Regions from separate parts of the Homo sapiens genome. Here regions 1, 2 and 3 are each linked to region 4. Evidence: fine-mapped expression QTL. A gene starts in region 4. Each other region holds a variant in brackets. All regions are shown on one strand. Distances are between the middles of the regions.

Evidence for each region.
Region 1: its variant is fine-mapped to the expression of CLYBL in lung (TOPMed, PIP 0.91).
Region 2: its variant is fine-mapped to the expression of CLYBL in monocytes (CEDAR, PIP 0.95).
Region 3: its variant is fine-mapped to the expression of CLYBL in whole blood (TOPMed, PIP 0.95).

Annotation. Positions count from the first base shown.
Region 1 is chr13:99,874,243-99,876,929 of GRCh38, forward strand. All of the region lies in intron 7 of CLYBL (citramalyl-CoA lyase), which reads left to right. The region is part of intron 1 of CLYBL-AS3 (CLYBL antisense RNA 3); the gene reads right to left. Among named protein-coding and RNA genes, the nearest start is that of CLYBL-AS3, 82 kb to the right of the region's middle. The variant T/C (reference allele first, on the strand shown) is at 1,213.
Region 2 is chr13:99,861,575-99,864,261 of GRCh38, forward strand. It overlaps CLYBL (citramalyl-CoA lyase), which reads left to right. Exons shown (of 9, transcript NM_206808.5): 4 at 1,417-1,518. All of the region lies in intron 1 of CLYBL-AS3 (CLYBL antisense RNA 3), which reads right to left. Among named protein-coding and RNA genes, the nearest start is that of CLYBL-AS3, 94 kb to the right of the region's middle. The variant A/AGACTT (reference allele first, on the strand shown) is at 1,333.
Region 3 is chr13:99,903,980-99,906,666 of GRCh38, forward strand. The region is part of intron 1 of CLYBL-AS3 (CLYBL antisense RNA 3); the gene reads right to left. It also overlaps a transcript of CLYBL not described here. Among named protein-coding and RNA genes, the nearest start is that of CLYBL-AS3, 52 kb to the right of the region's middle. RefSeq lists an enhancer at 469-969. The variant T/C (reference allele first, on the strand shown) is at 1,423.
Region 4 is chr13:99,605,591-99,608,277 of GRCh38, forward strand. It overlaps CLYBL (citramalyl-CoA lyase), which reads left to right and starts at 1,100. Exons shown (of 9, transcript NM_206808.5): 1 at 1,100-1,167. The coding sequence starts at 1,106. It overlaps LOC105370332 (a long non-coding RNA gene), which reads right to left and starts at 259. Exons shown (of 3, transcript XR_931674.3): 1 at 172-259. RefSeq lists enhancers at 1-942, 865-1,159 and a silencer at 881-1,440.

The DNA of each region.
Region 1 (2,687 bases), 270 kb after region 4:
AGGTTTCCATCCACAATATTAATCAAACTGACTTTCTTCCATCCTTCCAGAAAAATGTTTTTTGAGATACAACGTGCATACCATTAATTATTTTAGTTTCAAATTATTTGGTAAAATGCTTTAGGCAGGATAAATCATTTCCACATGATTTGTTTTAAATTTATAAAGGATTTTCTTAAAAGTTAATTCCATTTTTATGTCTTTTTTTATAATAATGGTGATTCCATTAATATTTGAAAATTCTTCATTCAGAACTGAATTTAATATGCTTATTAAAGTAATAGGATTTCAACAGTTCTTTTTTATCAATAAAGAATTTTATATACTGTAAAAATTGGATACTTGAAAACATCTCAAGCAAATAATCATCTAATATTGATATCAATAGAAATAATTTTATATAAACACATATAGCATACATGTTTATACAACATATAAACATTCAAGTATGTATGATAACGTGTATTTCCTCAAATCTATATTATGAGCTTAGTGCTAAAGTTTTTATCTTTCCATATTCATCACTCTTAGGCAAAAATGACAGCTAAAGGAAACAGTCAGTTGCTTTTTTAAAACAGTCACTAATCACAGGAAATGTTAATATAGGAATTTACTATTTCTTTCCAAATGGAGACTCTAACAGAAGAATGCGAAGGAATAGCACAATATATTACGTGTGTCAAAATTTTAAAGATACTCTGCTAGAATATTCATATTTTGCAGTATCTGGCTACAAATATGGCTTTGCTTCATTTTCAGTTTTCCAGACATTCTCTTTGATTCATATCATGGCTGTACGTGCTTTGTTTGGTTTTGGAAGGATTTTGTTTGGCTTTTTCAATATTTCTCCTTCGTTATAGCTTCACAAGTTGGCTAAAGACTGAGGAAGGGGAAGTATTCATCTTTAAATTCTAGGTTCAATTAACAATTACAAATGTCAGAAACAAGATCACTACCTGGCCTAACAACTGTAAGCATCACGCAACCAACATTCTCATTTCACTCAGGAGAGAAAAACAGTGCAAGCTGATAAGTTCACATTAGTAAGCACATCTTCTGCTGGAATATAAACTGGAAACATCTCTTAATAAAGAAAGAAAAAGGAAAGTAAGAGTTTTTTTCCTTATGTAAGTCTCTTCATCTAGAAACTTTACAAACAGTAATACATCCCTCCTCCCAAAATATTGAAAGCCCATCATTTTCATAGGTGTC[T/C]GATTGCTGCTCGCACACCTTTCATTTCTGTTTCCAAATGCAAGGCTTTACAAAAGAAATATTGCTTGGTCCAGATGGCCTTCTAGAAGCCTCCCTGAGAGAACTCAGGAGAAGTTTCTCTAGCCAAAAATATTGTTTCCGCTTATTCAAGTGCCAGAAATCCCACTGCCACTCTTTCACGCAGATCAAATAAACCATCTAAAGACGTGGTTGTTGTCTTTGTCAACTGAAAGGGTTGATTCCACTATTAGACAACAGTGTATCCTCCCACACCCATCCAGCCCACGACCCACAGCCTTCCCTCTGGATTTATGAGCAGGAACACGAAAATCAGAGCTGAGAGGTTTGTAGTGAAAATGAAAGATAAAGGGACATAACTCTGTTTTAGAGATTCTTAGTAATTGCACTTTTCTCTTTATTTCCCTGCTCATTTAACATTTTCAGAAAGATCGGCCATAATTTTGATTTTTAAAAGTCCAGTTCTTAGAAAATCTGAGTCTGCCAATGATGACTTTAAGATTGGATGGATTAACACAAAATTGCGAAATTTTAAACATTTAAAGCAAAGTAATGAATTGCTACAAAGTATTGAAATCATATCATATTCTATTTCACTTTTTTTTTTTTTTTTTTTTTTAGTGGCAAATGGCTGGTTTGGTATTAGAAGATAAGAGTGTTTTTAATAGGCCGGGTGCAGTGGTTCACACCTGTAATCCCAGCACTTTGAGAGGCCGAGGTGGGCAGATCACAAGGTCAGGAGTTTGAGACCAGCCTTGCCAACATAGTAAAACCCCGTCTCTACCAAAAATACAAAAAATCAGCTGGGTGTGGTAGCGGGTGACTGTAATCCCAGCTACTTGAGAGGCTGAGGCAGGAGAATCACTTGAACCTGGGAGGCAAAGGTTGCAGTGAGCCAAGATCACACCACTGCAATCCAGCCTGGGTGACAGAACAAGACTCCGTCTCAAAAAAAAAAAAAAAAAAAAAGAGTGTTTTTAATGTAGATTAAATCGGACAATGTTTTAAATTGTTTGCTTTGTCCTTAATTTATAACACACTCTTAAGGATATTTTAATCAAAATATTCTTTATCCAGGTTCATATTTTTCCGGGTTTTATTTGCTCAATTTTGATTTTAAATATGTCATTATTTTAGCTGGATGAAATCTCAGAAATCTTTTAGTCAGATGCCTTCAGTTTATGACTTAATGCACAGAAACCCAGCAAGGCTTCAGAAGCTGCCCAGTATCACTCACAGCCAAGGTGGAGAGAGGGCTGCGAGCAGAATTCAGGGCTTAGTTTGTAAGTAAAGATATGGAATATCATAAATGTGTCTTCAGTTGAATATTACAGTGAATACCCACACTCATGACCAAAACGAGATAGAGCCTTAAATGCACTCAGTCACAATCAAAATCTGGATTTGGGTAGTTCCAATGTATGTCTTTTCTTGAGGATAAGCAGAAACCAATGAGG
Region 2 (2,687 bases), 260 kb after region 4:
GTCACCCCCTGCTCCTTCTTGCTATTTTGGTTGAGTTATTCCTTCCCTTGAAAAGTTACTAAGGAGGTGATGATGATGCCCTTTGAAGGGGGGGCAGTGGGAGCAACTGGGAATAATTCTTCATTACTGAAAGCTGTGATTTATTTTAGCCTAATTGTAAAGTTACTGCAAATTGCTCAAAAGCTTTTTAAAGATCCCAGTGATTAGATTTTTTAGGGGGGTGGTGCACCGGCAAGGAGGGGGCAGCTAGAAGGGGAAATAACACCTCTAATCCCGCTTCTGGTAAATAGGCTGCCAGCTTTTCAAATGAGTTTCCTTTCTATTAGTCAGAATATTATGCTAAGCCTTAAGCATTAGTTTTTTTATGTTGCCATAGCAGCCTTATTCCTGCAGGGTGGTGACCTGTGATGATTACAGTACAAAGCTTATAGGGTCTTGAAACCCCCTTTGAAGATGAAAAGTCTTTGATGGTTTATATTTATGCAAATCTCTTAGATATGATTTACCCAACTGAGACTGAATGGAGAGATGATTAAAATTCCCTTTTCCTTTGATATCTATTAATGGCTGAATATTCCTTAAATTTAAAATGGATATATATGTTTTCATCTTTATTTACAAAAATACCTTTATCATACCTGTGTTTCTTCTCTATCTATCTCCCCACATCTTATTAGATCTAGATAGACATAATAGATTTACAATTTAGAGTGTGTTTTTTTCCCCCTTTTGAAGAGGGGGAGGAATCTGGGCAAGAGCTTTTGTATGTTTCCAGATGATAGATTTTGGAATTTGGGCTACCCCACTGGCAGCACAGAGCTAGCTGTGAACTGGTCTCATGGAAAAAATTGGCGAGCTTTGGTCTTCAAAGAATTAAACTTCCTTTTTAAGGTCTTCCTAGGTAAGCTAAAAAATTATGAAGAAAAACCTTCTGAACAAAGGGTAATGGTGCTATAATGAATAATATGGACTCCACGTAGAAGGCTGCTGAACAGTTGCACTGATGTCAGTGCTGGGCACGAAACAAAAACAGAATGGCAGGTAGAGGAAGAGTTCATTGTTTTAAGGGCCTACCATTTGCATTTAACGAAGCGAGGGCAAGAGGTCTTAAGTAAATGCGTTTTCAGGGAAAGCGTTTATACTCTCTCCTTCCAGTTCTAACTCCTAGGCCTCAAGTTGCTCCTTTGGGAGAAAAAAATTGTAATGCTTAGGATTTTACTATTTAGTTTGGTGGGAACTTCATTACCTTTTTCTTTGGACTTTCTTCTTATTTTTTTAAAAAAATTCTTTTGTGTGGACGAAAGAGGCTTGGATATTACTTCCTCAGGTCAA[A/AGACTT]GACTTAAATACTACTTCTGGGTCTACATTTCCGTGATTGTACATTTTTTCCCCACTAATCACCTATGACACTTCTGATTTTAGTTTGCAGACAAATTTTCATTCCACTTAAAAGGCCGAAAACTTGAACAACCAATGAATTTAATCCCTTTTGTGGAAACTGCAATGGGTTTGCTCAATTTTAAGGTAAGGAAGCCATAATACGGTTAATAAGTTAGCATTTTATTTATCACCTAAAGAGAACTTTTGCTTTCAATTTTAACATCTTCTTAAAATGTGTTTCTAGAAAGATTTATAAGCAAAGGAAATGTTGAGCACCATTTGTTATCTGTAATAGTCCAAAAACCAGGTTGCCAGCATCTTAGAAAACAATGAAATCAGTTAGGTAGAAGGAAAAGCTTCCCAGTCCAAAATATTTAAATGAAGCATTTGTATATTCCTAGTAACAATTTTAACTAATCACTGTGTAATTATATGCTTTGAATTATTGCATTTATAGACTAAATGTACATGAAAATTTGTCACCCTTATGAATTAACTTTGAAATGTTCTTTTCTATCAAATGTCTTTTCAGTGGGAAATGTTCTGCCCTCTCTGTAGCAACATTATCAGTAATGTCTAGCAGAGAAGATTATTGTTTGTAAGTTCATGCACACAAATAATTTGCAGTACAGTTTTTCAGTTTGCCACATTAGAATATCTTCTAATATACATGCGGGAATATTGGCTGAGCCAAGTGTTTTCAGCCGTTGTGTGGTTGCACTAAACTACCGGTCTTAACAAATTCAGAGCTAGCTCGTTTTTTCTCGTTTATCAGGGGGCATTTATATTATTTTCCAAAATATGCCTCTCATTCCACCTGACCTGCGAACATCAATCTAGCACCCCCTTTCAGAGTTCCTAGATTCCCTTCCCCCACCCCAGCCCCCACAGAGGGCAGGAGAAAAGAAATCACTAAAAACAACAGAAAAAACATAGTCGAACTGTACTGGAGAGAGAATGTGTGAGCGGCAACTTTGAGGCCTTGGGATGTGCAGAAGGGGTCGAGTGCAAATGTTTGGGGACCTGCTTCAAACCTTGTCCTGTGAGCAGCTTGTTTACACAACTAACCATACATTCTTCCAGCCAGCCCCAGAATCCTGAGAATATAATCAAAAGCATATCCCTAAGATGCAACCAGATTCATCCAGTGATTTAATTTTAAGCACTGCTTCGCCATTTTATTCCATAATGTACTTAGAAGCACTTACAATGTCTGAAATTAATCAACAGTGTCCCCACCGGTTCCTCGTTTCTTTCCCACCCACGTATATTATTAGCAGGTTATATCTCCACCTTTCAAGATTCACGGTTAT
Region 3 (2,687 bases), 300 kb after region 4:
GGCTGCAGTGAGCTGTGATCGTGCCACTGCACTCCAGCCTGGATGACAGAGTGAGACCCCTCTCTTAAAAAAAAAAACAAAAACAAAAAAACCCCACACCTTTTTAATTATAAAAAGCACAGCATTTTGTTGCCAAAGAAGGACTTAGAGGTCACCTAAGCCAATGGACTGGATCTTGGCTGATATTAGAATTATTTCTTGGGCTTTTAGTAAATACTAATATCTGGGCCCCACCCCAAACTAATTCAATCAGACTCTAGTCTAACCCCTCATTTTGCAGATTAAAAAGAGAAACAGCCAGACAGAACTCCCAGACCTCGAAAGGCGAAATGTGGCCCCTTCCATTTGCAGTCAAAGGGACAACATTGTAACATGATTTGGGAATTCCTGGCTATGCTAAACTTTAAAAAGCAAAGTTCAAACCAGTTTCCATAATTATGTTTGGGTCTCATGAATTGATTTGATAAGGAAGAGTTGATTGATTCCTCACACATGACCTAATTTCTAATTTTATACACATTCACATCCCTGAATGATTGCAGAAGAGGCTGAAATAGCCATCATGTTGAAATGTCTCATGCTATAATTTTCGAAATCAGCCACACGTGTATGGATGGCTGTCCTATAAATGTCACCTAAAAGAAATGTGTGGCCTCTAAAATGGCAGCGTCGTGCTTCAAACTAATATTCCATAATTTAATTTTTCTCATATATACTTAAAGCATATAAGTAAAAAGCAGTATTTTTCCCAGTGTCAGCTCAAAACTGTACAGTTTTTATGAAAATGAAGGCAAAGACGTCAAGTAACAGCTCAGCCAAGTGAGTCCCACAGCCCCGCAAGGCAGAGGTGAGCGTAGCTGCCCTCCCTGGGGGTCTCAAGAGAGCAAAAGAGGCCCTGAAAGGGCAGCCTCCCTCTTGTAAGAAGCTCAACTGGGAGCTCAGCGGGCTTTGAGCCATCTTTGCAGAGACAGCTTTTCCCACCCTGCCTCCCCCAGAACAGTACACCTCCCCCACCTTTTCTGCTCCCCCACATCTGCCTCCTTTGCCTCTTTCCCCACAGGGCTGGCCTGCTCACAGGTCTCAGAGGGAAAGGGGGTGCTTCACACTGGAGGGTCTGGTCCTAGGCCATTCTCTCCAGCCGAGGACCTCCTGGGAGAGATCCAGAAAGCTTTGATCACAACTATCTGCCTTGGGCTAAAAGACCTCTGGTTGGTCACTCCTCTAGGATCTTAATAAGGCCAGGACCTAGGATCACAGATGCATACCTGTTTTTCTTTTTTTTTAATAAAGGGAATGCTGAGCTGCAATGACCATTACTGTAGAGTTACAACAAGAGGGTAAAGTTCATACATGGCGACCTGTGTCAAATCCGTCCATTGATCTGCCCTCCAGCACACATTTACTGAGCTTCTGTTACGTGCC[T/C]GTGGTGAGTGACATGACATCACTGTGTTAGTGACTGGCCAAAAGGGTGTCTTGAAGCCGCCCTAGGGCCCTTCTGGCCCTGTTCTAGGAAGTGAAAGCTGGGGGCAGTGGAGCCCTTTCTTATTCTGTCCACCCTCCCCCACCTCCATTCTGTTCCAATTATTCTTCATTATCCTTCAAAGCAAACTTGCAAGTCAGCCAAGAACCGAGCTCCAGGTGTGAGACCAAAAAAAGAAAGAAAAGGGGGAAGAAATCTAAAAGTACCTTAGATGGAAATTTTCATGCAGCCATAAAAAAGTGTTTTTTGGTTGTTGTTTTTGCTTTTTTTTTTTTAGATCAAACATGTTTTGTTGTTGTTGTGGTGGTGGTTGTGGTTGTTTTTGAGACAGGGTCTCTGTCTGTCGCCCAGACTGGAGTACAGCTGCACGATCTCGGCTCACTGCAGCCTCGACCTCCCCTGCTCAAGCCATCCTCCCACCTCAGCCAGGACCCCACCCAAGTAGCAGGAACTACAGGCCTGTGCCACCACTCCCAGATGATTTTTGTATTTTTTGTAGAAACGGGGTCTCACCATGTTGCCCAGTCTGTTCTTGAACTCCTGGGCTCAAGTGATCCACCTGCCTCAGCCTCCCAAAGTGCTAGGATTACAGGCATGAGCCATGACACTCTGCCAGATTCAACATGTTTAATGGCAAAAGGGAAAATGCTGAGAAGTTTGCCTCCATTTGGTTATTTCACTTTGTTCCTTTTATACTTTCCTGTACATTCCAAATGGACTACAATGAGCACCTGTCACTGTGATCATCAAGAAATAAAATAAACAATAAAATAAGTAAATGTCACTACAGGGGATTTTGGAGTTTCCCTATTTTCTAAAATGGACATTTAAAAGTTTTCAAATCAGAAAAATGTCTGTTAAGATTTCATTTTATTGTTGTTTTACATAAGAATAATCAGATATGAGGAAAATAAGTGTGAGTGAAAATCAGAATTTGAATGGGAACTGAAGGACCCCCAGAGCTTTTTTGAGTTTTCTTTTTTTTTTCTTTTTTGAGACAAAGTCTTGCTCGGTCACCCAGTGGCGCGATCTCGGCTCAATACCACCTCCGCCTCCCGGGTTCAAGCAATTCTCCTGTCTCAGCCTCCTGAGTAGCTGGGATTACAGGTGCCTGCCACCACACCCAGCTAATTTTTGTATTTTTAGTAGAAATGGGGTTTCTCCATGTTGGCCAGGCTGGTCTCGAGCTCCTGACCTCAGGTGATCC
Region 4 (2,687 bases):
AGGTGGTGACAAGAAAGTGACCAAATTGGAGTAGACAGGCGAGGCCTGAGGTGGAGCAGGCGTGGGAGCTGGGGGAGGGCACCAAGGGGTTGAGCAGTCTCCCCTGTTGGTATCGAATATAACAATAATTCTTAGGCTCAGCAGAAGTTTAGCATCCATGTTCCCAGTCACCTGGACTTTTCCAAATCTTGGAACCCCCTCTGGCTGAAAAGGCTTTTGTTTGTTTAAACGGCCACTTTTTGCATCCAAGAGCACAAGTCAGCTTCCACTGGAAGGTTCTGAGAAACGGTTTCAGGTTTAAGTCTAGAGCATGAATGGAACGGAGTCACAGCTGAAAAAGAAACATGCCGAGTGCCAAGGAAAAGACATGGTTAAGGGGTAACATGGGCCCGGGTAGGTGAAGGTCGGCAGGTGGAGGCCGGCTGGATCAGGGAAGGTGAAAGAAGAGGCAGGGGCAGGGCCCAGCCTGTTTTAACGCCTCGGCGTTCTCACCGCTGCAGAACGGCTGCAGGGGGCAGAGTAAAGAGCTGCTGTCAGTTTCCCTGCCCAGAGAGTGCCAACAGCTGCTCTGACCTATTGCAGGCATGTGTGTTCCAGGATGCAGCCTTCCTGCACTTTGACCACTCTAGATTAATTGCTAACCAAGATATGCACATGATGGGGCTCACAAAGTATTAGGCGGTATTTTAACAACAAAAGCTGCGAAGAAATCCCTAGAAATGTTGGCTCTTCTGGCTGGGAAAACGCAGTCTGTCAACAGTTGCCTCAAAAACTCAGAAGCTCAGAGAGTTGGATTCGGTCACCAGAGAGGCCCCTCAAAGAGGCCCCAACCATTCAGATCCTCTGCTCTGTCCCCCATGACAGCGGGGACGAAGGTCCTAAGCCCTGGCCGGGAGGGCAGTTGACCTCGGGACTCGCCGCGGGGCGGAGCGGGTGCTGGGAGGAAGGAGGGCGTGGCTGGCGGGGTGTGGCTGGCGGGACGGGGCGGGGCGAAGACAGAGCGAGGCGGGGCCTGGGACGGGGGGGGGGTCGGTGTCGCCGTGGGGGCGTGGAATGTGGGGTGGGCGTGGCTAAAGGCAAAGGGCGGGGCGCGCGCGTCGGGAAGATGGCGCTACGTCTGCTGCGGAGGGCGGCGCGCGGAGCTGCGGCGGCGGCGCTGCTGAGGCTGTGAGTGCAGGTCCCCGTTCCCCGCCTTCCCGGCCCGGCTCGCCGCGGGTCGGCTCCTGTTGCAGCCCCGCGGGCCGGGCGCGGCCTCCCCAAGCCCTCACGGGAACCCAGCCGGACGGAAGCACCATGCGCCTCCCACGCGCTGGCTCGACCTCGTCCAAGGTCGCTGCCGCCCGCGCCTCCCTTTGGGAGGGCCCTCGTTGCACCCGGAAAATGGGTACACACCTTAGGTCGAATTACCTGGACTCAGCCCCAGGAAACAAAACTGCCTGCCTCCCCCAAATGGCAAACGTGAACGCGCCAGTCTTTGAGAGGCGGCTTGCCTGGTGAAGAACACCTGCGGTTCGTTTAACACAGCGGTTCCCAAACGGTTTGGTCTCAGGACCCGTTTACACGTCTAAAAATAATTTGAGGACCCCCCAAAGCTTTTGCTTATATCTATTGATTTTTGTGCATGAGGAATTAAACCAGAAATTTAAAAAATATTCACTTAATAACAAACCCATTAACTTTTAATACAAATAACACTTTAATGCATAACTTCTCAAAAAAAAAGTGAGAAGATTGGCTCATGGTTTTTATATTTTTGAAAATTTCTTTGGTTTAATAAAGGACAGCTGGAGTCTCATATCAGCTGTTTTGAAGGAAATATTTGAAAGAAATTCTGGGCTCATGCAGATGCAGATATTAGTTGGGAAAGGGAGGACCAAGCAGACCCTCTCAACGGGTCTCAGGGACCCCCTCAGGTGTCTTTGGACCACACTTTGAGAACCGCTGGTCTAGCACTTGCCCATCGCCTAGGTACGTGCACATACATGGTCTCATTTGGTTCCCTTGACCACCATGTGAAGAAGTTGGGTGTCATGTTTATAAAGATGAAAAAACAGGGTCAGAAAGGTTAAGGATTCTCAAAGCCCTATGACCAGTAATGAGAGAGTTTGGTTCAAACACTAAGTGTATGGCTCCTGGTCTGGAACTTCTTTATTTATTTATTTTTATTTTTTGAGACAGAGTCTCGGTCTGTCACCTAGGCTGTAGTACAGTGGTGTAATCTCGGCTTACTGCAACCTCCACCTCCTGGGTTCAAGCGATTCTCATGCCTCAGCCTCCTGAGTGGCTGGCATTACAGGTGTGCACCACCACCCCTGGCTAATTTTTGTATTTTTAGTAGAGACAGAGTTTCGCCATGTTGGCCAGGCTGTTCTCGAACTCCTGACCTCAAGGGGGTCCACCCGGATCAGCCTCCCAAAGTGCTGGGATTACAGGCGTGAGCCACCATGGCCGGCCTGGTGGTCTGGAACTTCTTTTTTTTTTTTTTTTTTTTTTTTTCCGAGATGGAGTTTCGCTTTTGTCGCCCAGGCTGGAGTGCAATGGCGCCATCTCAGCTGACTGCAACCTCCGCCTCCCGGATTCAAGTGATTCTCCTGCCGCAGCCTCCGGAGTAGTTGGGATTACAGGGCGTCCGCCACCATGCCCGGCTAATTTTTGTATTTTTAATAGAGACGAGGTTTCACCATGTT